Homo sapiens: one gene and its partners. The protein of the gene in region 1 purifies or fractionates together with the protein of each later gene. This does not show direct contact. Each region holds a gene or a part of one and is shown on either strand. Other genes may lie near its edges.

Region 1 (7,363 bases):
TGATCAGTTTCTCCTCTCCACGGATCATTCACATGAGTAAAGTCAGTAGCGTGCTGGTAAATGTTTAAGATCTTGTTCTTTGGGGGAAAAAGTTCCTAAGTTCTAGCAGTTGCCCTGGATAACTTCAAGGTATCAACATGGAAGTTATGTACAAAAATGGCTGTCACAAGCCAGTATGAGCTAACACCAACATACTACCCAGTGTTCTTCAAACTTCAGCTCACAGCCCATTAGTGGGGCTTGCAAACATTTTAGTGGACTATAAGCAGCATTTTTTTAAAATGAAAAAGTAGATTGTTTTACACATAACAGGAGTATTGTTTTGTACAATTTTTTTTTTTTTTTTTTTTTTTTTTTAGACACAGTTTCACTCTGTTGCCCAGGCTGGAGTACAGTGGTACAATCTCAGCTCACTGCAACCTCGGCCTTCTGGGTTCAAGCGATTCTCATGCCTCAGCCTCCCGAGTAGCTGAAATTACAGGCATGCGCCACAAGGCCCAGCTAATTATTGTATTTTTAGTAGAAACAGGGTTTCACCATATTGGCCAGGCTGGTCTCAAACTCCTGACCTCAAGTGATCCACCTGCCTCGGCTTCCCAAAGTGCTGGGATTACAGGAGTGAGCCAACGTGCCTGGTCAAAATTTTTGTTTTCGTAATTTTAAGTATGTGTGTAGTAAGTCTCAATGGAAATGTAATTCTTATGGCAGGTCACTTGAAAAAAAAGAAGTCTAAAAGTCACCAATGTAGTATCTTCTCTTTAAAAAAAAAAAAAAAACAACAGGAGAAAACCTGAATCTGCCCTTTGCTCCACTCCTTCCTCAGCTATAATGCTGCTTCTCCATTCCTCCTCACAGCAAACCTTTCTGAAATCTTTATAGTCATGGTTTCCACCAGTTCTTCACCTCCCATTTCTCAACACACTTCAGAGTCAGAGTCAGCAATGACATCCATGTTCCTAAGCCCATTGCTTACTTCCGTCCTCCTTGGCCTCTCAGCACACTTGGCACACAGGCTGTTTCTCTTTCTTTGGCATCTGTGACACCACTCTCAGCAAATTCCCCTGGTTGTCCCTTCTCAGTCTCATTTATTGGCGTTGTCTTATCTCCCCAGGGCTGTCCGAGGTGATTTTCTCCCACTACTCTCCTAGGTGGTGCCATCCAATCTCATGATGTCATATCATTCTTCCCTCATGCTTCAGCCATACTGGTTGGTGGCCTTTGTTTCCTGAACACATTTAATGCATTCTCAAGACCCTCAGGGACTTTGCAGCAGCTGCTCGCTAAGGCTGGAATGCTCTTCCCCACCATCTTCATATGGCTGTTTCCTTTCTTTCACTCACCAGCAGCTTAAACTTTGACTCCTCTGAGAGACTTTCCTTGTCACCCAACTAAGGTTGCCACTCAGGTGCTCCCAATTTAATCTTCTCTAAAACACATCACTGTATGTGTCCTCAACTAGAGTATAAGCTTCCTCGAAACAAGAACAATCAAAACTCCTTGCCCTCATGGAGTTTATAGTCTTATGATGGGTGAAGTAACATAAAATAAAAAGGCACCTTATATAGTATATTAGCATGACAAATGTTAGCCAGAAATAAAGCAAGGAAGAGTTGCTAGGGAGTGTGTATGAGTGTGTTTTGGGAGAGTGTTTGCAATTTTAAATATTGGTGGTCAGGAAGGGCCCCACTGAGAACTGACATTTGAGTAGACTTGAAAAGGGAAAAGGAAATATTGAGTAAAGATTTTAGGATGGGAGTGTGACAGGCCTGCTAGGAGAATAGCAAAGTCGCTGTGGCTGCTGCAGAAAAAGTGAGAAGGAAAGTAGTAGGAGATGAAATCACAGTGTGTGAGGATTCGGGCAGATCAGGAAGTGCTCGTGTAAGAACTGGATCTTTACTCAAAGAATGAGCAAAAATTAGTAGACGGTTGGCCGGATGCAGTGGCTCACACCTGCAATCCCAGGTTACAGGAGGCCGAGGCGGGCGGATCACTTGAGGTCAGGAGTTCAAGACTAGCCTGGGCAACATGGTGAAACCTCATCTCTACTAAAAATACAAAACTTAGCTGGGCATGGTGGCGCGCACCTGTAGTCCCAGCTACTCAGGAGGCTGAGGCACATGAATCACTTGAACACGGTAGGCAGAGGCTGCAGTGAGCTGAGAATGTAACACTGTACTCCACTCCAACCTGGGCAACAGAGTGAGACTGCCTCAAAAAAAAAAAAAAGTAGGTTTTAGTAAGGGATTAACATGATCTGAATTATGTTTTGTCATGACTTCTCTGGCTGTTGTGTTGAGACTACATTGCAGAGGGGCAAGGGCAAATATAGGGAGACCGATTAGGATACTGCAGTAATAATGTAAGAGATGTGGGACTCTATCTAGAAGGGCCCATGAGGTCCTTTGCATGCTAGTATTCTTTACTGCTGTGCCTGGCCATGATAGGCATTCAGTGAATATTTGCTTATTTAAAATAACACACTGGGCTAATTGAACAACAGTGCCAAATGAGGGAGATATTTCTAGGAATAAGTTCTTAGGATTTATGAACATTTTAATCCAGATTTTCTTTGTTAACTCTGCTCTCTGGCCCTTTCACTCAGCCCCGTTTGCACCTAAATATGACTTACAAAAGAAACACAGCATTTATGTGTACTTATTTCAACTTATTTTAGCTTTGTAAAGAAGTACAAGGTTGACTCAGGGCCCAGCTTGGTGTCTCATGCCTGTAATTTCAGCATTGTGGGAGGCCAAGGCAGGAAGATATTGTGAGCCCAGGAGTTTGAGACCAGCCTGGGCAACACAGTGGACCCTGTCTCTACAAAAAAAAATTTTTAAATTAGCTGGGCATAGTGGTGTGCGTCTATAGTCCCAGCTACTCCTGGGGCTGAGGTGGGAGGATCACTTGAGGGAAACCCTGTCTCAAAGTGGCGGGGCTGGGGGGAGACTCAGGCAGAATTGTGAAGATATTCAATTGCTCCTGACTTTATCAATAATCTAACATTTCAACCTAACATTGATATCTATTTTATGCAAAGCATTACACTATGCACTGGAGACTGTATAAGACAAGTTCCTTTTCTCAAACTACAGTCGAGTTGGATAGATAAAACACACAACACATACCAAAAGACAGCTATAAATCCAAGGCAGTGTATGTCAAGGGTAAATTCACCTATTCAGATTGGATCTTGAGAAGTGCATCAGGCTTGGAAAATGGGTAAGGAGGAGAGAAAAGCAACAGTGAATCAGAACATGAGTTCCCAGTTATGGGACTTGTAATGAATTCCTCAATTAAAACAAAAAATAATGAAAACAAAAGCCAGGGAGGAGAAAGCCCACGTTAATGACACTAAAATATATCTTTCCAAACAAATGTGGATAAAAGCCAAGTAGAGAAGATGAGAACTTTGAGGTCCCTAACAGAAAATAAACAGTAAGCAGCCAGCCATTCCAAGTGGCTGACATGACTTTGTTTAACTTTATTTGTATTTCTGGCTGGTGTGTTTACAGCCAATAGGTCAAACTATCAGTCAGTGTAGGGCCCTGAGAAGTCGGGTATTTAAGAGCATCTAATAGGCACAGAATTGTGCTCCATACTGCTTAAACTGTTCCCTAAGTGTCCAATTTGGAGAAAACACCCACACGCAGGATAACTGGCGAGTGACGCGGAGTGGCTGCGAGTCCAAGTTATCACTAACGGATGGGGAGCTTGGGCTGGGCACAGTCCAGCGTACTGAACCCTTCCCCCACCGTTTCACCTGCATACAGAGGTGTGTACTGTCAAAAAGCAGCGCCTCCAAGTCTCTTCTGGCACTGTCTGGACTTGGATCCGAGGCAGACGAGGAAGCTGAGAAAACCCTGGCGTTGACCCCGTGGACCTGGGCGCCCCGGGAAGGCCAGCGCTTGGTCCAGGCAGGCGGGGCCTGTGCGGTGACCACCCTGGTCCTGAAAAGTCCCAGCCCCGAGCGCCCTCCCTCCTAGACCTGGAGGCCTGGAACAGCCAGGTGGACGTCGGCCCACCTTTCTTTTCTTTCCTTCCCATTTTCCTACCACCTCCCACCCCACTCCGCCTTCCGGGCAAAGGCAGCCAGATCCACCCAGGACACATTCTTTGTCCTTATCCCTCTGTGCTCGTCCCACAGCAAGCCAGTCGCGGTCCAAGGCTCCAGAGGCTGTGCAGGAGGCCGAGCTGGGTGGCGATCAGCGGCGGGTCCCTGTCCAAAACCCAGCAGAGCCGCCAGGGACGCCCCAGACACAGAAGGCGGGGCGCGGGGAGGGTGGGGAGACCACAGCAGTGAGGCGCGCGAGCCGGGAAGTGAACGAGGACTGACTCCTGTCGCTTCCCGTAGCCGCCCACGGACGCCAGAGCCGGGAACCCTGACGGCACTTAGCTGCTGACAAACAACCTGCTCCGTGGAGCGCCTGAAACACCAGTCTTTGGGTGAGTCGCGCGACCCCCGGCCTCGGGTGGCGGGGCAGTCGCTAGAGGCGTGGCTGCTCTGAGGGTCTCGCCAGTGGAGGATGGCATTCGGATGTCACGGCTCCTAAATCACCATTTGATGGGTGGGACAGTGTCCAGTCCACCCCGACCCGCCGGTCCTCACCGCGGCAGAGCCGGGGCTGGGTGGCGGGGACGCTGCCTCTGCAGGCGAGGCGCTCCGGGGCATAAGGGATTATCAGGAGTCGCGGCCTTTCTTGGACATCCCTGGCTGGGGTCAGGCTGTTTGCCCTGGGGTGTCTCCTCGCTGCAAACCCACCCCACCTGGGCTGCTTTCTCACCTGTTCCCTCCTAGCCTGAGGCCGAGCGCCACCTCCAAGTGGAGGAATCTGGGGAAGTTTCCTTCCCGGAATTTGTAGTGACAGTGGAGTGACCTCCATTGCGTTCCCTGCCTCTAACACGCTCTTTAGGATGCCGAGTCATTTGACTGCAGTGTTAAACATTGCAAAGCGCAAGTCATGTGACTTCCTTTGACCGTACGTGAAACTTAAGTGATGGCTGCTTGTGATGCATACGAAGTGTTCATGCTGGCGGGACCTGTCCCTGGGGATACTTCGGGGGTTGCGTGATTTAATGCAAGCAGATGGCTTAAATTGGGTCACTGGCTTGTTATTATACATGTGTATGGCAACTCGGCATCCATTCTTTTTGCTCTTGTTCTTACTTCCTGAATTGAGTCACGGAGCCAGAGTTTTGAGGTTTTGACTAACGAATTAAGTTAATGACATGGGGCTATATTTAGGTGGTAAACCAAGAGGGATACAGTTTTTTTTCTTAATAAAGAAAAAGTGATAGATTTGATCGGTGTGTATTGTTGGTGTGCAGTATAATGACAGAATTGCTGGAAGTAAAATACAGGAAGCTCTGGTTTCATTTCCCCTTTAGTTCTGCTTAAAGTCGAGTTTTTCCTGGAGCTATTAAATGTAGTGTAGTGTCCATGAGTGCTTTTATCTTAAAAAATGTGGCTGATGCTTTCCAACACTCCCCTGCCCTGTGATTATTATTTTTTTAAGCAACAGAGAAAACCGTATCTTAATAGTATTAAAAGTATTGGATTTTTCCCTACTTTGATTTGTTTAAATTGGAGGAGGAAGAGCAATTCTTTCTATTCACAATAATAATAGCTAACATAGCGCTTACTCTTTCGCTGTTTTATTAACTCAATCCTCAGAACAAACCAATGATGTGAATACTGTAATTCTCATTTTATGGAAATGAAAATCTAAATGAATACCTCTGGTAATTGTACGGGACTGTTTGATTAGTATTTACCATTAATTAATTAAATTTTTTTTTTTTTTTGAGATGGAGTCTCGTTCTGTTGCCCAGGCTGGAGTGCAGTGGCACAATCTCGGCTCACTTCAACCTCCGTCTCCCAGGTTCAAGCAATTCTCCTGTCTCAGCCTCCTGAGTAGCTGGGACTACAGGTGCATGCCACTACGTCTGGCTAATTTTTGTATTTTTAGTAGGGATGGGATTTCACCATATTGGTCAGGCTGGTCTCTAACTCCTGAACCTCAGGTGATCCACCCGCCTTGGCCTCCCAAAGTGCTGGGATTACAGGTGTGAGCCACCATGCCTGGCCTATTTTAGTATTTTTAATAATAAATTCCATGTTAGAAATTTTCTACTGATGTATTTTTTAAGTCAATATTTCCTACACTCACAATCCAAAATTATTTAGTATATGAGCACACTGGTAAGAATGGGAGGCAGATCGTTGATTGTAATAATATTCTATTATTTGGTAAATATCAGTAACATAATATATAATTTAAATTTTAAAATAGGATATGAAGAAAAATGCTACATGCTTACTTTTCTTTTCCTCTATTTTTACTTTACACAGGGCCAGTGCCTCAGTTTCAATCCAGGTAACCTTTAAATGAAACTTGCCTAAAATCTTAGGTCATACACAGAAGAGACTCCAATCGACAAGAAGCTGGAAAAGAATGATGTTGTCCTTAAACAACCTACAGAATATCATCTATAACCCGGTAACTGATTTCTATAAGATAACTTTTTACCTATGCCAGGACAGATCCAATAGAATATTAATTATCCATTGGGAGACAGGGCAAGAATAAAAGCCAGTGAACATATTTAAAGCACCTACTATGTAATAGAGATGGTGGTGGGTGCTGATTACAAAACAGCTCTTGTCCTCTAGTGGAGGAAGAAGTCACAATGATAATATGACGTGATGAAACAGTGTTATGAACAGGGAACGTCTGGGTAGAGTGGAGGGAATGCCAACTTTTGGTGATGGGAGGAGGCTCAGCTAATCATAAATTGTAGTTTTTAAAGGAAAATGGATTTCTTACTCTACAAGTTTTTCATTTTCTTTTTTAATTAGAGCTGTCCATGAGAAGTTAATGTCTCGATCTTTCCCTCAGCCTTTCAAATACTGCTTGGCCCTTGAGCAGGGAAAATGTCAAAAGCCAATGGGGAGATGGAGAGTGTGAAGTAGTAAGGGTCTCGTGCAGTTCAGGCAGGTCCTAGAATCCCTGAATGACTGTAATTGCTGGAAATTGCCCTGTAATCCTGAGCAGTAAAGAGCTTGTTTTAGTTTTATGTGGTGGTGAGAATCTTTAGGAATGTCTAGTTTCCACGTATCTGAAGCTGAATCCTGAATCGAGGTCTGAAAAAGGACAGCCACTTTTTTAGTAAACCGCCTAGAAGATTCTTGGGCAAAAGGAAGGGTGAGAATCCTTAAAATGAGGCCCTAAACCAGTTTTGTTAGTGTGTGTGGGTTCAAGTTTTTGTCATTTACTTTATAGCTGTATTTCCTTTTTCCCTAAGTTTTAATGTCATTGTGTAAGAATGAGGTATCGCTGCTGTATCAAGCAAAGTCAGTTTTAGG
Region 2 (7,023 bases), on another chromosome or scaffold:
CAGACAGATGAGGCCTAAAGAACAGGCAAAGGGGTAAAGGGGGCAGGTAGAGGATGGGGCAGGGAGTAAGGGATGGGCACAGAGAAGGAATGGAACCAGGGTGGGCCTAGGTGTGGCCTGAGCCTTAGCCAGCTAGCACAAGATACATTTCTGGCCTGGCCCAGGCTCCGCCCCTAGGTTCCTCCTCTTCCCCCAAAGGCCCACACAGTCACCTGTAGTTTCCAGAGGAAGTCTAGGCGGGCAGTCGACTCCACCTGCTGAGCATGCAGATACAGCGCCAGCGCAAACACCAGCAGAATCACAGGGGTCATATATTTGAGGGCCACCCTCCCTGCAGCTGGACTAAGGATAAGCAGAGACATGCTTGGTGTCTGAAGGAGGCATCTAATGGCTCTACCCTTTGCTGCCTCGGAGCCCTCACTTACCAGTCCAGCCCATCAAAGGTCTCATTGGAAGAAGCCCTGGTAAGAAGATAGAAGAGACAAAGTCATCAGTGCTTCCTGGATTGCTGGGTGGGCACATGGAAGGGGAGACAAGAGACTGCATTTACTGAGCACATACTGTAAGTCAGGCATTGGGCCAGGGCTTTTACTTACATTAATTAACTCATTAAGAGTAGAGGTTAAGAAAACCTCTGCTCTTAGAGACTCCTCTACTTACCAGCTATGTGACCTGAGACAAGTCGCTTAACTCTCTAAGCCTCCTTCCTCATCAGTACAACAGGGATCAGATCTAAATAATGTATGTAAAAGGCTTAGCACAGTGCCTGCCATATAGTCAGCCTTCCATAAATGTTAGTTACTATAATCTTTACAACTACCCTGTGATTTAGGTGACATTGCCATTTTACAGATGAAGAAATTGAGGCTCAGAGAAGCTAACTCACCTGTCTAAAGTCACACAGCTAATGAGCAGCAGAGCAGGGATTCAAACCCAGCAGAGACCAGAGGCTTTTTCTACTACAACAAGCTATGGCCACATATCAAAGGAATGGGGTTTTGCAGAGGAAAAGCCAGTGTGGTGTCCCAGGCAAAGCCCCCAAGCAGGAATCAGAAGCTTTGGTTCCTAACCAGAGCCCTGCCACCAAGCAGCTGTATGTCCTATAGGTGGTTAAGATGGTGGATGTGAAAGCACCATGCAAATGTAAGAGGGAATTTTTTTTTTTAATGTCTAGCCTAAAGACACAAGGATTTCCCAGGACTAGGGTTTCCTTGGGGGTAACTATTTGGGGTCACATGCTGGGAGCTCCTCCATCTCCTCCCTTTCCCCCACAGGGGTGTTGTGGCATTCCAAGGCACAAGGGGCATGGGCACCAGAGAGGCTCACAGTGACCTAGAAAGGTGAGGGAAGCTCCTGGGGTATTAAAGGACCTGAGAATAAACTCACAAGCCATGGACGCCAAGCAGTAGGTCATAGTTGTCAAAGATGGTGGCTGGGGGACCCAGCAGAAGCAGCACCAAATAGATGAGCCCCAAGACAAAGATCATGGCCAACTTCCCGATGCTGCTGATGTGCAGGAAGACAGAGCTGGCCAAGAGACTCAGCAGCATGTTCCCGATGAAGTACTGCGGGGGTGGCAGAGGCAGCGTTGGGTGAAGGCAGAGGCCACAGCACCCTTGGGCAGGGAGAGCCCTGCACTCTCCTGCCTGACCTAACCTTCCCACCACACCCCTCAAACCCCCATATCCTCCACCTTCCATGCCCAGCCCCTACAACACACCAGGGCCCCTGGTTGCTCCTAGTGTGGGAGACTCTGGTGAGTTCCTGGGTCCCCAGCGCCCATCACCAGGCCTGGCACAGAAGGGCCAATGTCTGTGCCAGGACAGCCCCCCCACCGCCTGAGCACTGCTCGAACACCTCAGGAAAGCTGCAGGTGGGCATGGTGCCCTCACACAGGGGAGCATCCAGGCCCAGAGAGTAATTGAGCTGCTGCAGGTGGCAGGCAGTGATGTCAGCAGGTGTTAAATTCAGCATCCGGGCTGCACAGCTCCGTATGGGGGTGTGGTTACAGGTGAACTGCAAAAGTGGAGGGGTATATCAGGGTAACCAAGGAGGGAAAGGGTTGCAAGGTACCTGGTGAAGCCATGTACCCTAACCTGGGCTATGCCCAGGTACCTTATACCCCATGGGCCTTAGTACTCACTCAGGGATGACAAGAGGTTGGGAGAACAAGGAAGGAGAACCGGAGTTAACCTTCCCCTATTCTGGGAGGGGGCTCCCTGAGGGCAGAAAATATGTCCTTTTCTCCGCTGTACTCCCAGTGTCCAGGACAGTGCTTGGCACAGAGCAGAGGTGGGAGAATTCCCACTGGACCCTTACCATGTTGGCAATGGCAGAAGTAAACACAAGCAGGACGGAAAAGATGCCAACTGCGGTGCTATGTGCCCGTGAGCGGACAATGCTGCGGGACAGACGTTGCAGGGCCTTAGGGAACAGCTAGAGGCATCAAGAGACCAAGAGTTGAAGGTTGTATCAGCCAAGGAGGAATGGCAACCAGGGATGGGGCCCAGTGGAAGAGGCATGGCCTTCTCCCTCTCCCCATGTGACCTCCTCCCTGTCTGGAGTCCAGCCTGCCCTCCCCAACAGCCTCAGAAATCCCCTTACGTACAGAACCACAGGAGTACACAGCACAGATCAGCACGGTGATTAGCAGCAGCAGGAAGATGCTGGCATAGATCCCAAGCATCAGGGTGGAGCTGGGGCAGAACAGGGCCAGAAAAATCATTTAATTCTGGAAGATCTGGGCATTCTTGTCCCACCCTCTGGAACAAGCAGGGATGCAGGCTCCAGGGATTGTGGGCTTGTGTGGGTATTTAGGAAGCTTCTGGGAAGTGGTGAAGAGAGAAGCTAAGAGAGGAAAGGCAGGGCTCTCACTGTGGGAAGATGAGAAGCTGGATGAAGCAGATGAAGCAGAAGACCAACAGGGCACAGGCAACGTAGGCTCCGAAGCGGGGATCCACCTTCCGGGAGTACTGAGGGAGAGGAGGCTGAGCTGAGTGCTGGGCCCTCCCTAAGGAAGGCAGGGACAGCAAGGACAGGGCACTACCAGGGGTCTCAACAGGGAGGAGATGCAGTTGGCTCAACTGATGAAATCCTCACCCTGCTCTGTGGTCCCTTCTCCATCCCCCAGAAACACCTGTGCCCTCACCTGTGCTCAGCCTTCCCTGCTGCGACCTGCCCCTCCCCCAGCCCTTGTCCTTCTGCCCTGTATCCCTCAAACCTTCTTCTCAAGATCCTCTCTCTGGAAGGTGAGCAGAAACCGGCGCACATGGTCCTTCCGCAGCTGATCAATGCTGCGGGCATCGATGGCACGGCTCAGGAACTCATCCACCTCATCCTCAGGGTTCAGGGCATCTTGGGTGCCCCGGCTGAGGGCAGGAGACATGGTTTCACCAGTTGCATGGGCATGGCCATGTGAGAAACAATGAAAGGAAAGGTATGGACAGCACCTGAGGGAGGGAGGGAGAGCCAGGGGGGTGGCTCCTGCTCCCACACAACACTCCTAAGGTCAGGGAAAAGGAGGATCTCGGCTCCCCCCAGCCCCATCCCAGGGTGCAAGTGCCTTCTCCCTCCTCAGTAACCTGACTTACTTGTCTTTGCTGGAATCATCAATGCCCTGGAGAAAGGGACAGAGTGTGGAGTGAGGTGAAGGGCCAACAACCTTCATCTCTGCAGCTCCTTCCCCCACCCCAACACTGTGCTGAGGGTGTCCCCGTCATATCCTCTGGGGGCACTGGGACCCGAGATGAAATCTTCTCACTGCCCCAATACCAGAAAGCATACATGGAAATGGCAGTCACAAGAAAGGACAGGGTCAGGGACAGGGTATTGAGGGAGCTAAGAAAATGAGGCCCTAGGTCTGGTGCTGAGGGCCCCTCACCATCTGGCGGAAGGCCTTGGAGTCCTTGGTCCGGGAGAAGGCACGATCAGGAACCCAGCGCGGCATCAGCCCTTCCATGGAGTTGGCCCGAGTCCGCTGCAGCTTGGCCAGCATGGCCTTCTCCTCTTTCTGTGCGGGCAGCATGGGTACAGGCTCAGAAGAGGGGCCCAGAGGAGGCCTTGGCCTGCTCCTCCCCATTTGTCCCTCTTCTTGCTCCCCTGCCCCCAGCCCTGCCCTGGCCCTGACCCGTTTCTGGCTGGCGCCCAGGATGAGGAAAGTCTCAATGTGCTGCTCCTTGAGGTACGCGTTGCGCTCGCCACCACGGCCTGGCTCCACCTCGTAGTCCCCGTTCAGGTACTGCAGTGTTGCCCGAGTGATGTGGATGCGGCTGTATGTGGCCAAGAGGGTGAGACCCTGGCTCTCCCACCTTGCCCCCATCCCCCCCACCTGGACCCCCCTACTCACCCAGCCCGGCCTCCTGCCTCCATGTGGTTGGCCAGGGTCACATCATTGGACCACACATCGAACTGCCATTTCCGCAAGCCAAGGACGCCGCAGTGCACGCGCCCGCTGTGGATGCCCACGCGCATGTTCACATTCACACCTGTCACCTCACGTACCAGCCTGGGAGGATGCAGCCCCAGATCAGCTCCTGGCAGTCTTCCCCTCCCCCAGCCCACAACCCAGGCCCTTCACTCCTCTCAGGGCCCAGCGGGCAAGGACAGACCCAGATGCAGGGGACGGGAGCACAGCCTTGGTTGGACATGAGCAGAAGGCTGCATGGGGCTCAAGGACAAATGTTAAGGCTGTGTTCAACAGCAGGGGCCCAGCAGCATCTTATGGAACTGAGCTAGGAGAAGAGGAATCACTGTTATCCCCTCTGGCCTGCACAGATGGCATTCCCTCTAGCCCAACTCCCCTACTGCATAGGCTCTCCCGGCCCCATCTCGGCTGGCTGGGAGTCTAGGGGTCCGCATGGGTCTTTGCACAGGTTGGAGAAAGATTCCCCTTCCCAGTGACAGACAGACCTCAAAGACAGAGAAAGCCAAAACTGAGGAAATCTCCTGAGGTCTCATCAAAAAGTAGGAGCAGTCTGGGGCACCCGCAATTCCAGGAAGCCTAGGAATGGGGCACTGCTTACGAGATGGCCTCAATCATGTCTACCCCCATCTCCACACAGCAGTGGGCATGGTCGGCCCGGGCCTCCGGCAGCCCTGACACACAGTAGTAACAGTCCCCCAAGATCTTGATCCTCAGGCAGTGATTCTCCTGAATGGGAAGGAATTGGAGGGAAGGGTAACCTTTACTCTCTTGCCCACCCAGCCTGCATGGCCCACCACCCTCCACGCATACTCTATCTGCCCTCAAATCCCCAGCTGCTGCCAGCAAAGCTATGCTCTCACCACGGTCAACACCCAGGCCCAATCCCAAGGCCCAGCACCCTCACCGCAGCCAGCTTGTCAAACCGGGCAAAGAGCTCATTCAGGGTCATGACCAGCTCCTGCGCAGTGCACTGGGATGCCAGGCTGGTGAAGCCCTCAATGTCTGCAAACAGGATGCTGTAGATGACAGCAGAGGATGAACAGAACACATAGCCCTCAAAGACTTCCAGACCCCCCGCCCTGCTGGGCATCCTCCTACCCTCACCCTACCTGACATTGTCATGCTTCTGTATGTAGATCTTGTGGAACATCATGTCTTCTTTTTTTGTGTTGATGTCTTCTTTCATCTCCATGGCAACGTGCTGGGGCAATACCGACAGCAGCAGCCGCTCCTAGCCCAGTGGTTCCAATAGGGCATCACTATACTCTTGGTCTCACATTGCAATCCCTCCTGGTCTCTCCACATCGCCAGAGCCCTCCTAGACTTCTCTGAAGACCTGACCTTCCCTTCTGGACTGTGGCCTGACCTTCCCCCATCAGAGCCCCCTCTGACCACCCTCCATTGAGCCCCCAGATGTGCTCCTGTCTACGCCCTCCTTCCCTTGGACAGGACAAAACCCCAGTATCACAGGGCCTCTGTGACGCACAACCCAGGGGAACCATCACACTGTGCTGCACGGAACTGGACAAGGCAGCAGATCCAATGTGCAAGTTATTTGGGGGTAAGGTGGGGGCAGGCCCTGGTCACGGGGAGCAGCCCCACCTGCTGCCGATTCTCATGCTGCAGGTGGAGCCGGGCCTGGATGTAACCGCGGGTCTCCTGAAAGGCCTGGCGCTGAGACACCTCTGCTGGATAGTGTGTGCAGATGCCAATGACGTTGGTGCAGAGGAACAGCAGCACATTGGCACCGAGCTGCAGGAGGTGGCAGAGGCAGACAGTGACCATCTCCTCTGCCTGCCCCCCTAAACACACACACACATTCACACAACTTGCTAGGTTCTCTGAGGAAGGAAGCCAGGGTCCTGCACCCTGTCTGTCCCCAAGCCACTGCCACCCCTGCAATATATCTCTCCCATTACCCACAGGACCCCAGATCCCAGCCAACTGCCTGAATCCTCCATGACTAGAAATGAGATCTTTTCACAGCTTCTGGAAGCAGAAGACCAACTAGGGCCAGATAAGTCATGGGGCCCAGCCCCAGCACCCTGTATCTCCTGCTCCTCAAACACCCCACACAAAAGACAAACGCTGCTCCTTTTGCAGGTGCTCCTCCTTAAGGACAGCACCCAGGAGACCTGAGCTCTACATCCTCCTGTGAGTGACCCAGGACAAGTCACCTCCTCTCTCTTGGGTTTGCTCATCTATAACCCAAAGAGGAAGAATGAGAAGATCTCTAAAGCCTCTCCCTGACTTGACATAACTTAGTAACAATAATCACCATTGTCATTATTATTATGGTAGCTAGTTTGTTGGCTGCCTACCATATGCCAGGATTCTGTAGGTGTCTTCTATACACTGAATAACACATTTTTTTTTTTTTTTTTTTTTTTTTTGACAGAGCCTTGCTCTGTCACCCAGACTGGAGTGCAGTGGCCTGATCTCGGCTCACTGCAACCTCCGCCTCCCAGTTCAAGCGATTCTCCTGCCTCAGCCTCCAGAGTAGCTGGGATTACAGCCACCTGCCACCATGACTGGCTAATTTTTGTATATTTTTTTAGTAGAGACGGGGTTTCACCATGTTGGTCAGGCTGGTCTTGAAC
Region 3 (7,023 bases), on another chromosome or scaffold:
TGCAAGATGAAAAACAAGAACTGGCCAGTTTCTTAGGACATTCTTTTCTGAATGTACACATGCCCAACCTAAGCCACATAAGTCATTTTGCCTGCCTTATGTTATAGTGGTATTAATAAATGTGTATTCATCATTTGTTTATAATTAAGTTATATATACTTCATTTTATGTTGCTTATCACACGAGGAGATAGTACAGAAAGAAAAGCTAGTATTCTTTTTAGAAGTACATTTGCAGGCTGGGTGCAGTGACTCATGCCTGTAATCCCAGCACTTTAGGAGGCTGAGGCAGGTGGATCACCTGAGGTGAGTAGTTCGAGACCAGCCTGGCCAACACGGTGAAACCCTGTCTTTACTAAAAATACAAAAATTAGCTGGGCGTGGTAGCACACACCTATAATCCCAGCTACTCAGGAGGCTGAGGCAGGAGAATTGCTTGAACCTGGGAGGTGGAGTTTGCAGTGAGCCGAGATCACGCCATTCCACTCCAGCCTGGGCAACAAGAGCAAGACTTCGTCTCAAAAAAATAAATAAATAAAAAATAATAAATTTTTGGCCGGGCGCGGTGGCTCACACCTGTAATCCCAGCACTTTGGGAGGCCGAGGCACATGGATCACGAGGTCAGGAGATCAAGACCATCCTGGCTAACATGGTGAAACCCCATCTCTACTGAAAATACAAAAAATTAGACGGGCGAGGTGGTGGGCGCCTGTGGTCCCAGCTACTCGGGAGGCTGAAGCGGGGGAATGGTGTGAACCCCAAGGGGTGGAGCCTGCAGTGAGCCGAGATCGCGCCACTGCACTCCAGCCTGGGCCACAGCGAGATTCCGTCTCAAAAAAAAAATTTAAAAATAAATAAATAAATAAATAAATAAATTTTCACCCATTTTCAGTGCTCACGAAGATACTAGTTCATACTTAGATGAATCTCCTCTATCATTCACAAGCAGAGCATTCAAGCAGGAAAGAGGGTTTCTCTCTAAACAAAATAAATCTCTCCGAAAATCTTTATATTTGACTTTAATAATGTTGCTGAGTAACATTTGGGTACACATCACTCACTTTCTCCACTCCAACCTGTGACCTTCAGGGACAATACTGCTGGAATGTACATGAAATCCTAGAATTCCACAGATAAACTGCAAATTGGTACCCTAAATAAGGAAAAGTAAGAGTTTGCTTTGTGTCTTTTTCTTTGCAAAGTGCTTTTGTTGACCCTGCTACTTATCTTCATCTGCCTTATATCAGCAGTAGAAAGAAATCCCGGAATGGTTCTTGACATGTTGGCTTTGTTATACAGCTACACTGCATTAAAAATGTCAGATACTCAGATCAGTCACTAAATCTTCATTAGTACCTTGCTGTGTGCTGTTACTAATGAAAACACAGGTTCTATTCACATGAAGTTTGTGGCTTGATTTAAATTCTTGCTCTTTGGAATTGTTCCATGTGCTTGTTTAAGTGCTTCGTCTGAAATGGGGAGATATTATTAATATCTACATTTATGCATGTTAATAGCCAGCACTAAGTGAACACTAACTGTACATCAAGCCTTATTTTATGTGCCTATTTCATTTCCTCTTCCCAGATCACACATTCGGTAAGTAATAGAGCTAGGATTAAAACCAAGCCTGGTTCCCAAAGCCTAGCTCAGCCACTACAGTTTTCTGCTTAATAGCTTTCTGGATTAAGCCTGTGACTCTTTTTTTGGGAGGGGGAGGCAGGGCCGGGGGGGCGGCAGCCTCCCGAGCCATAGTAGGCTCAGAGATACCCAAGCCTTTTTTGTGATTCTTTTGTGAGCCTTCTTGGTCATAGTTATTATAAAGCTTCTGGCAGCTCATCCTGCAGTCTAGTTTTATAAAATTGCAAGCCTTCTTGAAGTTTACGACTGTCAGTTCTTTTTCATTCACTTCTAAATACTGTATATCTATATTGTTATGACTCACCCACCTACTAGAAAGTTTGCATGTTCTTCAGTCCAAAATAGTGGTTCAAAATCTCATTTATATGTACTTACATGCCAGTAAGAGAAAAGAGCTGCTCTGTGAAGGTCTTAAAGGATTGTTTTATTCTTTTCTGATTTTTGTAGGGTAAGAAGTACCAATGGGATGCAGAAACTCAAGGATGGATTCTCGGTTCCTTTTTTTATGGCTACATCATCACACAGATTCCTGGAGGATATGTTGCCAGCAAAATAGGGGGGAAAATGCTGCTAGGATTTGGGATCCTTGGCACTGCTGTCCTCACCCTGTTCACTCCCATTGCTGCAGATTTAGGAGTTGGACCACTCATTGTACTCAGAGCACTAGAAGGACTAGGAGAGGTAATTTTCTTTTCTCTCTTGTTTTACTTCTTACCGTGTGTCTCCTTCTCTTCTTCTTAAAGATGTCATTCTTTGGTATGAATATGAACCAAAAAATAACGTTGGATGATAACAGGGGTTTATTTTTTAGAGAAAGGACTAACTAGAAAATTACCTGAATAGATTTTGTTTGTGGTAAATGAGGTCTCTAGTAGGAGCACCCCGAAATTGGAACCTTTACTCAAAAACCAGAGAAAACTTTTTTCCAAAAGAGACTTCATAGCTCATACTTTAGGAGAGAAGAAAATAAACCATTAATAAATGGTTAAGATAGTCCGGGCGTGGTGGCTCATGCCTGTAATCCCAGCATTTTGGGAGGCCAAGGTAGGTGGATCACTTGAGGTTAGGAGTTTGAGACCAGCCTGGCCAACAGGTGAAACCCCATCTCTACTAAAAATACAAAAATTAGCCGGGCATGGTGGTGCACACCTGTAATTGCAGCTACTCGGGAGGATGAAGTGGGAGAACTGCTTGAACCCGGGAGGCAGAGGTTGCAGTGAGCCAAGATCGCGCCACTGCACTCCAGCCTGGACGACAGCAAGTCTCCATCTCAAAAGAAAAAAAAATGGTTAAGATTGACCATCCTTACCTCTTGTGCTCTTGCCACCGTTAAACTCTGCTCTATCATTGATGCCCAAGTCTGAAGCACATTTTACACAATAGACTGTTGAGTTGCATTTAATTTCTTTTTTATCGCTTATTCTTTTATTTTTTCTGGTCTTGTAACTTAGAGACAAATATTTTATGATTTTATATAACTATCTCAATTTAGTTCTATGATTCTGCTCTTTTTAGAAGTATTATTGATTTTTGCCTCTTTTATTTCCCTCCTCTTAATAGTTTTATCATTTTTTAAAATTTTGATTCTTGTCTTTCTTTTCCTTCCCACTTTTCTTTTGTATTTCATCATGTGTACCCCCATACTTAATAATTTTCACTTTTCCTTTATAACTTCGAACTTCTACCTCTGAAATCCAGGGAATGGTGTATTTTGCTCTCTTGCATTTCTTTAATTCAAGCAAGATAATGGCCACTGGGCTTGGTGTAGAGGATGAAGATTATTTTAAGTAGCAGTGTATCATGCTGTTGGAATGAACACTGGACCAGAGTTTGAATAATAGCTCTATTGTATCTAACAGTGAAACCTTAGGTAAGCTCTAATCTCTAGATCTCAGTCCCATCATTTTTTAAACTGGGACTAAAATACCTTCCCTGTTTTCAGTCACAGATTAGATATAAAATTCATATGTGATAAGGATTGCTAGAATACTTTGGAAATTGCCAGGTACTATTAAAAGATTTTTCATTCATCTGAATGTTTTTATTTTGTTCTTATCAGTAGAGGTCCATTAAGTAAACCCTTCCTGATCACAAAATTAAAATTACTCCTCTATTACCAGGTTCCTGTTCTTCTTGACAAAGTAAAATATACTTAAATCTAGCATATTTTCTCTGATCCTAGTATTCAATCTCCTTGCTGAATGTATTCCCATATTTTACTTCCAGTTTATGCCACTAATTTAACATTACGGCATATTGATCATATTACCACTGTTATCTCAGGTGACATTTTATTTATTCATTTATTTATTTTTTTCTAGTCTTTGAGACGGAGTCTCACTCTGTTGCCCAGGCTGGAGTGCAGTGGCATGATCTCGGCTCACTGCAACCTCCGCTTCCTGAGTTCAAGCAATTCTCCTTCCTCAGCCTCCCAAGTAGGTGGGATTACAGGCATGCGCCACCATGCCTGGCTAATTTTTGTATATTTAGTAGAGGCGGGGTTTCACCATGTTGGCCAGGCTGGTCTCGAACTTCTGGCATCAAGTGATCCACCTGCCTCCGCCTCCCAAAGTGCTGGGATTACAGGCATGAGCCACCGTGTCCAGCCAACAACTAAATAGAATTTAAGTTGTATTTATACTCAGGTTCTCTCGTCCTTCTTCATCCCTTCAATATGTATCACAGGTGCATTTCCTCATTCATAAAGGACACTTAGATTACTATCTTGCATTCCTACCATCTGATTCACCATAAATATACCTACATTGTCCCTAGGTTTTATAATAAAGTTTTCTACAACATAATCTCTGTGGGCATTTCCAAACATCTCAAGTTTTCTTCTATAATGACTCATCCTGTGGATGCTCCATCATATAGATTCTTATTGATTTGCAATGTACCTAAATCATCTTTGCCTTCCATTGGTATTACTTTTTTTTAATTCCTTTTGTTTTTGTTTTTGAAAGAGTCAGCGGAAAGTACAAAGTATTAAAACATTTATTCTTCTCTCCACTAATAATAGCACTAGTTACCATTTATCTTTACAACAATTATGCAACCGCCTTGAAGTTCAGGGAGGTTAACTAATCTTTCTGAAGTGACACAGAGAGTGTCCAAGGAGAGCCGTTCTCTCTCACTGTCCTGTGGTATCTCCTCATTTACCCAGTCTCTATGAAACTCCCTGTTTCCACATCCTGTTAGCTCTCCGTGTCAGTAATTGGCATCTACTAGGCTTGTTATCACAGGAAAAAAAAGAAGAAAGGCTGTAAACATGCTAATTGAATTCATCCTTTTTTTAATAGGACTGTTTTTCTGGTTGATTGTCAGCTTGAATTTTTTTTCAGTATCCCAAAATATTAGCTCAGTATTTTTTAAAGTTATAAGTTAGTAATATTCCCTTTCATTCAGGTGATTAATAAAGTGAATGAGTAAAATTAACCTTGAGCAAGATCCCTTTATGTCCTCACTCAGTACAATTATTTTAGATTTATTGTAACCCTTATCTTGTTGTCTTAAAACCAGTTCCAAAATCCATGAATCTTTGGGGAGTTTTACTTTTTTTTTTTAAGAGATGGTGTCTCACTACGTTACCCAGGCTGATCTCGAACTCCTGGGCTCAAGCAATCCTCCTGCCTTGGCCTCCCAAAGTGCTGGGATTACAGGCATGAGCCACCACACCCAGCCTCAAATTCTGAAAGTACTTCATTATAAGATATTTTCACTTAACACTGTAAAAATTTCTCATTTCATGGAACCTGATTCGTTTGATTCTTATCCAGAAAATGCTTTTGTAGCAAAATACTTAACTTACTTTAAAGCATTAACAAAACTACCTTACATTTCATCAGAAATATCATGTTCCCTTCTCTCAGGGTGTTACATTTCCAGCCATGCATGCCATGTGGTCTTCTTGGGCTCCCCCTCTTGAAAGAAGCAAACTTCTTAGCATTTCATATGCAGGTGAGATAACAATTACCAAATTTTGCTGTAATATGTTATGTATATATCAACCTTTGGGAAAAAGGGCCTGCATACCAGAACGATGCAATGTTGGATTGGATGCCCCTTTGGGGAGAACATTAAGTTTCGGTAGTATAACTTTATTACCAATTTTTCTCTTTGGCTCAACAACTTATAGTAATGCAGCTTAATTGACTAATGTCATTTTCCCCATCTGCCATCATCTATTTCAAAGTATGTTGTGTTTTCAGATATTGGTATAGAGATGCTATTTTTTTTCTTTTTCTGTTTACTTTTTTGGGGGTTTTAAATTTTATTTTTGTTTGTTTAGAGATGCTATTTAAAAAAAAGAAAAAAAAAGGCCAGTAGCTAGAAAATTGAGTGTTTTTGTCCTTAAATTGTGATTTCTGTTTTGATTAACTAATGAATGTATCATGATTCTCAACCCCTCTCTTCATGCATCTTTTTTCTATTGCATCTTTATTTGCCATCATTTTGATCTACAGGTGAGATAACATGAGTTTTATATATGTGAATTATAATTTTATCAGATTGCATAAGAAATTCTAGCCTTTCTTTCATTGACTAAATTAAAATTTTTCCACCGGACTGCTTTTTAAATACAGTAGTTGAGAAAAGGCCTCTCTGTGGTACTTTTAAGCTAAAATCTGAAGGATAAGAACAAACCATTCATGCAGGGAGAAGAGCATTTCAGCCAATCAGAACAGCATGTACGAGGGCACTCAGGCAAGAAATAACATAAGGGTTAAAAGAAGTGGAAAACTACCTTGGATGGCTAGAACTCAGTGAGTAAGGAGGATGATGGCATAAGATGAGGTTAGAGAAAGAGATAAGAGCCGGGTTATATCAGGTCTTACAGGCTACAGGAAAAAATGTAGATTGTTTTTTAAGAGGCATGATTCAATTACATTTTAAGAAGATTATTCTTGCAGCTATGTTGAGATTGACATGAGAAATCTGATGATAGGTTCAAGAACAGGTACTATCTAAGGTTCCCTTTTACCTATTGAATAAATCCCAAACTCCTTGAACTAGGGGCAAGATTCTTTACAGTCTTCACTACTTTGTTGCAGCTAGCCTTATATCTCTGGCAGATAGTGCCTAGCATGGAGTAGGTACTCAGTAACTGTTCAACTGTCCAACCTATTTTTCCAGCTTTATCTGCTTTTCCTTTCCTTTACCCAAATGAAGTTCCCAAGCCTACTCTCTGCTTTACTACTTCCATTCCTTTGCTTGTCCTGTTATACTACCTCTATATCTTTTTTCTAATCTTGTTTCTATGGGACCACATTTTAGCCTTTTTTTTTTTTTTGAGCCAGGGTCTCACTCCAGGCTGGAAGGCAGTGGCACAATCGCCCCTCACTGCAGCCTCAACAGCTGAAGCGATCGTCCCACCTCAAC
Region 4 (7,773 bases), on another chromosome or scaffold:
TAATCCAGGACTATTTCCTCATATCAAAATGCTTAATTTAATCACATCTGCAAAGTTTCTTTTACTCTATAAGGTAACATATTTACAGTTTTGCAGATTAGGATGTGAACATCTTTGCTGGGGGCATCATTCAGCCTAGCACAACTGGTAACTCACAGGCTATTCCAAATTTAATAAATCCCAAGACAATCTTCTAATCTTCCCATCTCCGAAATCTGCTCATCTTAGTGAACCCCATCTCAGCAAATGTGCCAACATCCACATAGTTCCTCATCCCAGAATCCTGGTCCTCATTTTAGACATGTCCCTGTAATTAATCCACATCCCACCAACCACGAAGTCTTCCTGATTCTTTAACCTAATCTTTTTTAAATTTTTTATTTTTTCCATCTTCAATATAATTGTCACATCAGGACGACTGTGGCAGTCTCCTAGTAGAACTCCCCACATCCCAGACTTATTCCCACATCCAATTTATCCTCCAAGCAGTAACCAGAGTAATCATTTCAAATGCAAATCTAATCATGTTACTCTTTTCAGTAGTTCTAATCCTAATCACATGCTCAGTGATTCTGGTGACAAGCCTCCATCCGGAAGCTTTTTAAGGCATCTCTTCCTCATTCCCCTGACACGAATTACCTCATTAGCATAACAAAGACATCCCTATCACTAAGGGTATTCCATGGGTTTTTGAATCTCTGTACTAGGAACCAGAGACAAAGACTTTATATATATATACACACACACACACACACACACGTGTGTATATATATATAATTTTATATATTATATATTATGTATATAATTTATTATACCACATACAGTCCTATGGTTTTTGACAAATGCATAATGTTATGTATCAATCATTATAGTATCATACAGAATAGCTTCACTACCATACAAATCCCCTGTGCTTCCCCTACTCACCCATCTGCATCTCCCCTAAACCCCTGGCAATCATTCATCTTTTTATTGTCACTATAATTTTGCCTTTTCCAGAATGTCACAATGTTGGAGCCATACAATATGTAGTCTTTTTAGACTGGCTTATTCACTTAGAAAAATACATTTATCAATCTCCTTTTTTTTTAAATTTAGAAATGAGGTCTCACTATGCTGTCCAGGCTGGAGTGGAGTGTCTATTCATAGACTGCAGCCTTGAACTCTGAAGCTCAAGTGACCCTCCTGCCTCAGCCTCTCTAGCAGCTGGGACTACAGGTGACTGACTTTCCCGTGTCTTATTAAGGCTTGATAGCTCATTTTTTATTGTTGAATAATATTCAGTTGCATGGATGTACCACAGTTTGTTTCTCCATTAACCTATTGAAAGACATCTTGTTTGTTTCCAATTTTTGGCAATTATGAATAAAGCCTCCTTAAATATTCACGTGTAGCTTTTGTGTGTACATAAGTTTTCAACCAATTTGAGTAAATACCTAGGAACATGATTCATGGTTCATATGGCAAGACTATGTTTAGCTTTGTAAGAAACTTCTGAATTGTCTTCCAAAGTGGCTGTACCATTTTGCATTCCCACCAGCAATGAGAGTTTCTCACTCTAGTTTGCATTTGGTACTGTCAGTATTTTGGATTTTAGCCATTCTAATAGGTGTATAGTGGTATCTCATTGATGTTTTAATTTGCAGTTCCTTAATGTTACGTGATGTTGAGCTTCTTTTTACATAGTTATTTGCCATATCCATCTTCTTTGGTGAAATGTCTGTTCAGATCTTTTGTCCAATTTTTAATTGGCTTGTTTTATTATTGTTGAGGTTTAACTGTTCTTTGCGCATTTTGAACACAATTTTTTTTAAATAAAATAGAGATAGGGTCCCACTATGTTGCCCAGGCTGGCCTCAAACTCCTGGGCTCAAGTGATCTTCCCACCTCAGCCTCCCAAGCAGCTGGGACTACAGGTGTCTGCCACCACATCCAGCTAATTTTATTTTTTGTTTAGAAATAGGGTCTTGCTATGTTGCGTAGGCTGGTTTCAAACTCCTTGGCTCAAGCAATCCTCCCACCTAAGCCTTCCGAAGTGCTGGGATTACAGGTGTGAGCCACTGCACTTGGCCAAAATTCTTTATCAGACATATTTTTTACAAATATTTTCTCCCAGTCTGTAGCTTGTCTTCTCATTCTCTTGACACTGTCTTTTACAAAGCAAAAGTTTTTCATTTTAGTAAAGCCCAACTTGTCAACTTTTTCTTCCATTGTGCATTTGTTGTTTCATCTGAAATCTTTTTGCCAAATCTGAGGTCACCTATATTTTCTCCTGTGTTATCTTCTGGCAGTTTTATAGTTTAGCTTTTAAATTTAAGTCTATGATCCATTTTTATTTAACTTTTGTGAAGGGTGTTAAGTCTATGTCTAGATTCAATTTTTTTTTTTTACATGTGGAAGTCCAGTTGTTCCAGCACCATTTATTGAGAAGACTGTCCTTTGCTACTTTGCCAAAGATCTGTTAAATGTATCTGTTTGGGTCAAGTTCTGTGCTTTGTATTCTGTTCCATTGATCTATTTGTTTATTCTTTTGTCAATACCATGCTCTCTTGATTACTATAGCTTTATAGTAAATTTTGAAGTTGAGTACTTCTATGGACTGAATGTTTGTGTCCCCCCAAAATTTATATGTTGAGGCTTAATCTCCAATGTGATGGTATTTAGACCCAAGGTTTTTGAGAGATAATTAGCTCATGAGAGTTGAGCCCTCGTAATGAAATGAATGCCCTAATAAGAATAGATAGAAGAGAATGTGCTTTATCTGTCTTGTTTTCTGCCATGTGGGGATACAATGGGAAGAATGCCATCTGCACACTCAAAAGTGAGCCCTCACCAGATTTCCAGATGTGCCAGCAACTTGATTTTGGGCTTCTCAGACTTCAGAGATGTGAGAAATAAATTTCTGTCGTTTAAGCCACCCAATCTATGGCAATTTGTTACAACAGCCTGAACTAAGGTACTGTTAGGCCTCTGACTTTGTTCCTCTCCTTTGGTATTGGTTTGGCTCTTCTGGTCTTTCATTTTTCCATATAAACTTGAGAATCAGTTAATATCCACAAAATAACTTGCTGGGATTTTGATTGATTTGATTTGATTGTATCAAATCTATAGATTAAGTTGGGCAGAACTGACAGTTAAATATCAAGTACTCCTATCCATGAAAATGGAATATCTTTAAATTTATTTAGATCTCCTTTGAACTTTGTAGTTTTTCTCATTGGAAGTTTTTTTTATTTAGAATTTTGTAGTTTTTCTTGTATAAACCTTTTACATATTTTGTTAGATTTATACCTAAATATTTCATTTTATTTTGGTGCTAATGTCAGTGGTTATTGTTTTTAATTTCAAATACCAATTGTTTATTGATGGTATATAAGAAAACAACAGACCATGTATGCAGGTCGACTATTCCTAGTACAGAAATCCAAAATATGAACTACTCTAAAATATGAAACTTTTTGAGTGCTGACATGAGGACCAAGGGAAATGTTCACTGGAACATTTTGAGTTTTGGAGTAGGGATGGTAAACCCATAAGTATATAATGCAAATATTACAAAAGCAAAAAAAAAAAAAATCCAAAATTGGAAACATTTCTGGTCCCAAGCATTTTGGCTTAGAATGAGCCTGTTTTAAACTTGCTCATGCAAACTTGCTATAATTGCTTTTCATTCTGTTTTTTTAGGCGAGGAGTGTCAATTTTTTCCGGATTTTCTATGTTAGATAACCATCTCATCTGAAAGCAAAAAGTTTTATTTCTTCCTTCCCAATCTACCTTGTAATTATTTTTAAATGTCCATTTCATCAGCCTAACTATAACCTTACTGAGAGCAAAGTTTTCATCTTTAGTTGTCACCTCTTTTACACTCAGATTTTTATTAGTTTTGCCATATATTAAATTATTCTGGCACTAATTTAGCTAGAAATAAACTGCTTGTAAATGCTATTTTGTCAAGGACTCTACAGTATTCCGTGGTAACTATGATTACTCTTGGGTAAACTGTGCCTCAGTTTCTTTGTCTGTAATGGGATGTCTTTATAGACTGATGTGAAGACCAAATAAGACTATACATTAAGTTCGTAGAGCTATGGCTGGCACAAAATCAGCCCTCAAGAAATGATCGTTATGTTTTTTTACTGGGAAGCAATTACTTTTGCGCAGCACCACACCTAACTCTCAATAGCGAAGGAATATTAGCTTAGGCGGACAGAGTAATACGCCCCCCACCCCCAACATCCAAATTTCCAACAGAAAAATAAAGCAGGAGTTGAGAAGGGGTCGTGAGAGGAACGTTTCTGAGCCTATAGTGGAGAGGTACAGCAAGCGGAGAGTGAGACTAGGGCAGCAAGTGGTGGAAGTCGAAGGCATCCCAAGAGGGAACAGGGGCTCCCGAGACCTCTTTGAATTGGAGGCGACGAGAACCAAGCGACCGTGAGCTGCGATGCACACAGTAGTGAGTGGGTGGCACGGGGCCCGCGGGCACGAACAGCCGAAGAGCGGAGAAGACTGGGAGCATAACCGCTGGGCAGCGGGCAGCGGACAGCGGGCGGCATGAACCGCCCCACTTTGCCGGATACCTGGAGCTGCAGGAACGACCCACACCCAGGCCTCTTTACCCCTACCGCCCCGTTACCTTGGGGACGGGATCACCCGACCCGGCGCCGTGCGACTGCGCGGGCTGAAGGCGGGGGCGGTGCCATGACGCGCCTCGGGGGCGGTCCTCGGGCGCGCACCGCTCTCTTACACTCGGGCCTCAGAAGTCCGTGCCAGTGACCGGAGGCGGCGGCGGCGAGCGGTTCCTTGTGGGCTAGGTGAGAGGCCAAGGGGGCAAGGAGGGACGCCGGTGCCAGGTCCCGGGCGCGGGGACTTGGGGCAGAGGTGTGACGGTCCCTGGGCCACTTCACAGACTGCATCCTGGTCGCAGCCGTTTTCGCGAGGCAGCGGCGACGCCCTCTCCTCAGGGGGCTCCGCGCCCCTCCCTGCGCCCTGCTGGCTGGGGGGGCAAGTTTGCGGGAGCAGCGCGCTCTTCCTGCCGCGACCCCGCGCGTTTCGGGTTCCTGCCCGGGCTGGGGCTGGGGCTGGGGCTGGGGCTGGGGCTGGCAGAGCCCGGAGGCCCGGCTGGGTGAACGCCTTCAGCCCCCGCCCCAGCTCTGGGGTTCTTCCTGGGACCGTCTCTCGATCCTTGTTTTCTCCTCGATAAGATCTCGACATAAGAAAGAGCCTCTGGCCACGGTTCCTCCCAGTGCTCGGCGTTTCTAGGGCTGTGCTTAATCGCCCTTCTTTTGGGTTATTCGGAAAGTCCTGGATTTGAAAGGAGGAAGGAAGTGTTTGTTTATTGGGCGAAGCCTTGACTTTTTTGGAAGGGGGTGGGGAGAGGTTGTTCGCTTTGAGCTTTTTCCTGGAGAAGTTGGACCTGAGGGAGAAACGTTTCCAGTAGGGTGTGTTTAGAAGGAAATACCCCTGAGATCTGACCCCTGAGATATGATGACTCAGAGCCTTCCTTTCAGGATTTCCTTGTAATAATGGGAAAGGGAAGGCATATGGATGTGGAAAGTTTTCACTTTTACCAAAGTGGTGATTATTGAGTCATGGAGTCTTCTAATGTGTCCATTTTTGAAAGGAGTTTGTAGATTATCTAGTCTGTATAACCACATACACATTTACTGTTATCTTTTCCATTACGTACATTGCTTAGAAAGTACGCTCGGCTTACCAAACTCTTAACATCCGCTTGTTTCAAAAAGAAATCGTTGATTAAAGCAGGAAATTTACCTTGAAAAACAACTGCGGGCCTTTTAAATTAAATTGATTTCTAAATGTGTATGTGATTAGTTAAAACTCAAATTTGTTCAGTCTTTTTATTTTCCTGTTTAAGATTGAGGGATAACGGTAGAAAATACGTCCTTTTGTCTTCTGTGTTACCAACTTAATTCTATAAAATTTGTGCCTTAAATGGTACATAAATATTATAAATCTAGTGGTTTGTGGCACAGAATAAAAAGAAGTAGAATGACTTTTAAAATGGTCAGTAAATAGTCACTCCATTATAAATTAAATTTAACTTTGGAGACATTAACTTTTAGTTTTGGGCATTATAGGAAAAGATGTAAAAAGGGGAAAAAGATGAACAAAAGGGGAAGAATTTGCTAATGGTTGCCGGTTAAATGTACTGTTTAATTAAAGAGTTTCTTAAAATGAGCGTGACAACTATTTTCCCTGTTTTTGCCAGATTTGGGAACTTTTTATAGGTATTAAATGCCAAGAGATTCTAAAAAAGAAAAGCGCCCCCAAATAACTTTGAAATACTTTCTACTTTTAGCAATAGTTACGTTAGCATTTATTAATTTCTTTTCAAGTGCTGCCAACATGTTTTGTAAATGTATTGTTTTTGAGTAGGTAAACAGTCACTTGTCTCAAAATTTAAGCAGCATAAAAAGGTATAAAGTAACAAGTCTTCTGGCAGGCAGGCAACTTTTTTACATTTCTTAGGTATTCTAGGCAAATTTTATATCTACACAGGCAAACATATAAGCTGTATTTGCCTCCTTGCTTTTAACACAAACGTTAACATTTTATATACTGCTTCACATTTTGCTCTTATTTTTCCAGTTAGTGATCATATTTTGGAGCTTTTCTAATATCAGCATATATAGCTTTCAAGTCTTTTGCTGTTACACTCAGTGCTGCAGTGAATCAACTTTTACATATGTTGCTTCCTTTGTGCACATATATTTTTACACTTCAGGTTTTGAGACCTGAAGTGATACTGCAGAGTTGGAGGGTATCTGAATTTAGAATTTCGGTAAGATAACTGCAAACCCACTCTGTATGGTAATTGTACTAGTTTACGCTCCCATTAGTAGTATGTGAGTGTTTCTCAAAGGCTTGCTGTCAGAGAATGTCAAACTTTGGATTTTTGCCAGGTGAGAAATGGAATCCTATGGGTAAGGATTAATTATTCTATTACAGTGGACTTCATATGGACATACTTCTTAATGGCTGATCATCAGAAACCCCCAGGATACTTATTAAAAAGAAGAGTTCCTAAGTCCTTCCGTGAAATCTGTGTCTGCCCAGGAAGCTGTTTTTATAATAACTAGAGCCTCGGGTAATTTGGCTCTGATGATTAGCCAGATTGAGAAACATTGCTCTGGAAGACTGCTTAGGATATATTAAATTGTGTTTCTAGACCTCATGTATGAGCCATCTGGAATGCTTACTATCTGGGTCCAATGGACACTTTATTTTTTCATTTTTTAGTTTTTTTTTTTTTTAGAGATGGAATCTTGCTCAGGCTGGTCTTGAACTCCTGGGCTGAAGCAGTCCTCCTGTCTCAGCCTCTGAAAGTGCTAGGATTACAGGCATGAGCCATACGGTTCCTGGCCTGATAATTTTATTTTTTACATTTTTCATTCATTTTATGAATAGTTTGCAGAAGTGAAATTAAAGACATAATGAAACACAACTTTACTAGAAATTTTAATAACTGCTTCAACAAATTATCACTCCAAATTTTCCTGGTTTTGAAGATATCAGTAGTTGAAATAGGCAACATCTTCGAATTCAACTAATTGCTTATCAACTGTCATATAATTTTTTAAAAAAATCAATGATTCTGCCGTCCTAAATTTTTATTATCCCAAGATGTTTTTAATACAGCGGTTCCCGACATTTTTGGCACCAGGGACTGGTTTCATGGAAGACAGTTTTTCCACGGACGGGATAGGTGGATGGCTTCAGGATGAAACTATATCACGAGGAGCGTTTAACCTA

What was found.
Region 2: the proteins of LGALS8 (region 1) and ADCY6 purify together in Homo sapiens (affinity purification with mass spectrometry; 3 studies listed by BioGRID and IntAct, with this or other methods). This does not show direct contact.
Region 3: the proteins of LGALS8 (region 1) and SLC17A5 purify together in Homo sapiens (affinity purification with mass spectrometry; 4 studies listed by BioGRID and IntAct, with this or other methods). This does not show direct contact.
Region 4: the proteins of LGALS8 (region 1) and SDCBP purify together in Homo sapiens (affinity purification with mass spectrometry; 4 studies listed by BioGRID and IntAct, with this or other methods). This does not show direct contact.

Annotation. Positions count from the first base shown.
Region 1 is NC_000001.11:236,519,619-236,526,981, forward strand, and holds the start of LGALS8 (galectin-8), read left to right. Parts: upstream 1-4,363; 5' UTR 4,364-4,443; exon of another isoform or gene 4,444-4,890; intron 4,891-6,349; 5' UTR 6,350-6,452; coding exon 6,453-6,497; intron 6,498-7,363.
Region 2 is NC_000012.12:48,772,083-48,779,105, forward strand, and holds part of ADCY6 (adenylate cyclase type 6), read right to left. Parts: intron 6,176-7,023; coding exon 6,026-6,175; intron 5,655-6,025; coding exon 5,533-5,654; intron 5,440-5,532; coding exon 5,328-5,439; intron 5,150-5,327; coding exon 5,022-5,149; intron 4,505-5,021; coding exon 4,346-4,504; intron 4,269-4,345; coding exon 4,127-4,268; intron 4,010-4,126; coding exon 3,881-4,009; intron 3,617-3,880; coding exon 3,591-3,616; intron 3,369-3,590; coding exon 3,221-3,368; intron 2,973-3,220; coding exon 2,875-2,972; intron 2,697-2,874; coding exon 2,609-2,696; intron 2,437-2,608; coding exon 2,320-2,436; intron 2,017-2,319; coding exon 1,858-2,016; intron 1,566-1,857; coding exon 1,387-1,565; intron 462-1,386; coding exon 426-461; intron 343-425; coding exon 213-342; intron 1-212. UniProt on the Homo sapiens protein: Catalyzes the formation of the signaling molecule cAMP downstream of G protein-coupled receptors. Functions in signaling cascades downstream of beta-adrenergic receptors in the heart and in vascular smooth muscle cells.
Region 3 is NC_000006.12:73,636,990-73,644,012, reverse strand, and holds part of SLC17A5 (sialin), read left to right. Parts: intron 1-2,088; coding exon 2,089-2,322; intron 2,323-5,513; coding exon 5,514-5,601; intron 5,602-7,023. UniProt on the Homo sapiens protein: Multifunctional anion transporter that operates via two distinct transport mechanisms, namely proton-coupled anion cotransport and membrane potential-dependent anion transport.
Region 4 is NC_000008.11:58,548,493-58,556,265, forward strand, and holds the start of SDCBP (syntenin-1), read left to right. Parts: upstream 1-4,768; 5' UTR 4,769-4,811; intron 4,812-7,773. UniProt on the Homo sapiens protein: Multifunctional adapter protein involved in diverse array of functions including trafficking of transmembrane proteins, neuro and immunomodulation, exosome biogenesis, and tumorigenesis.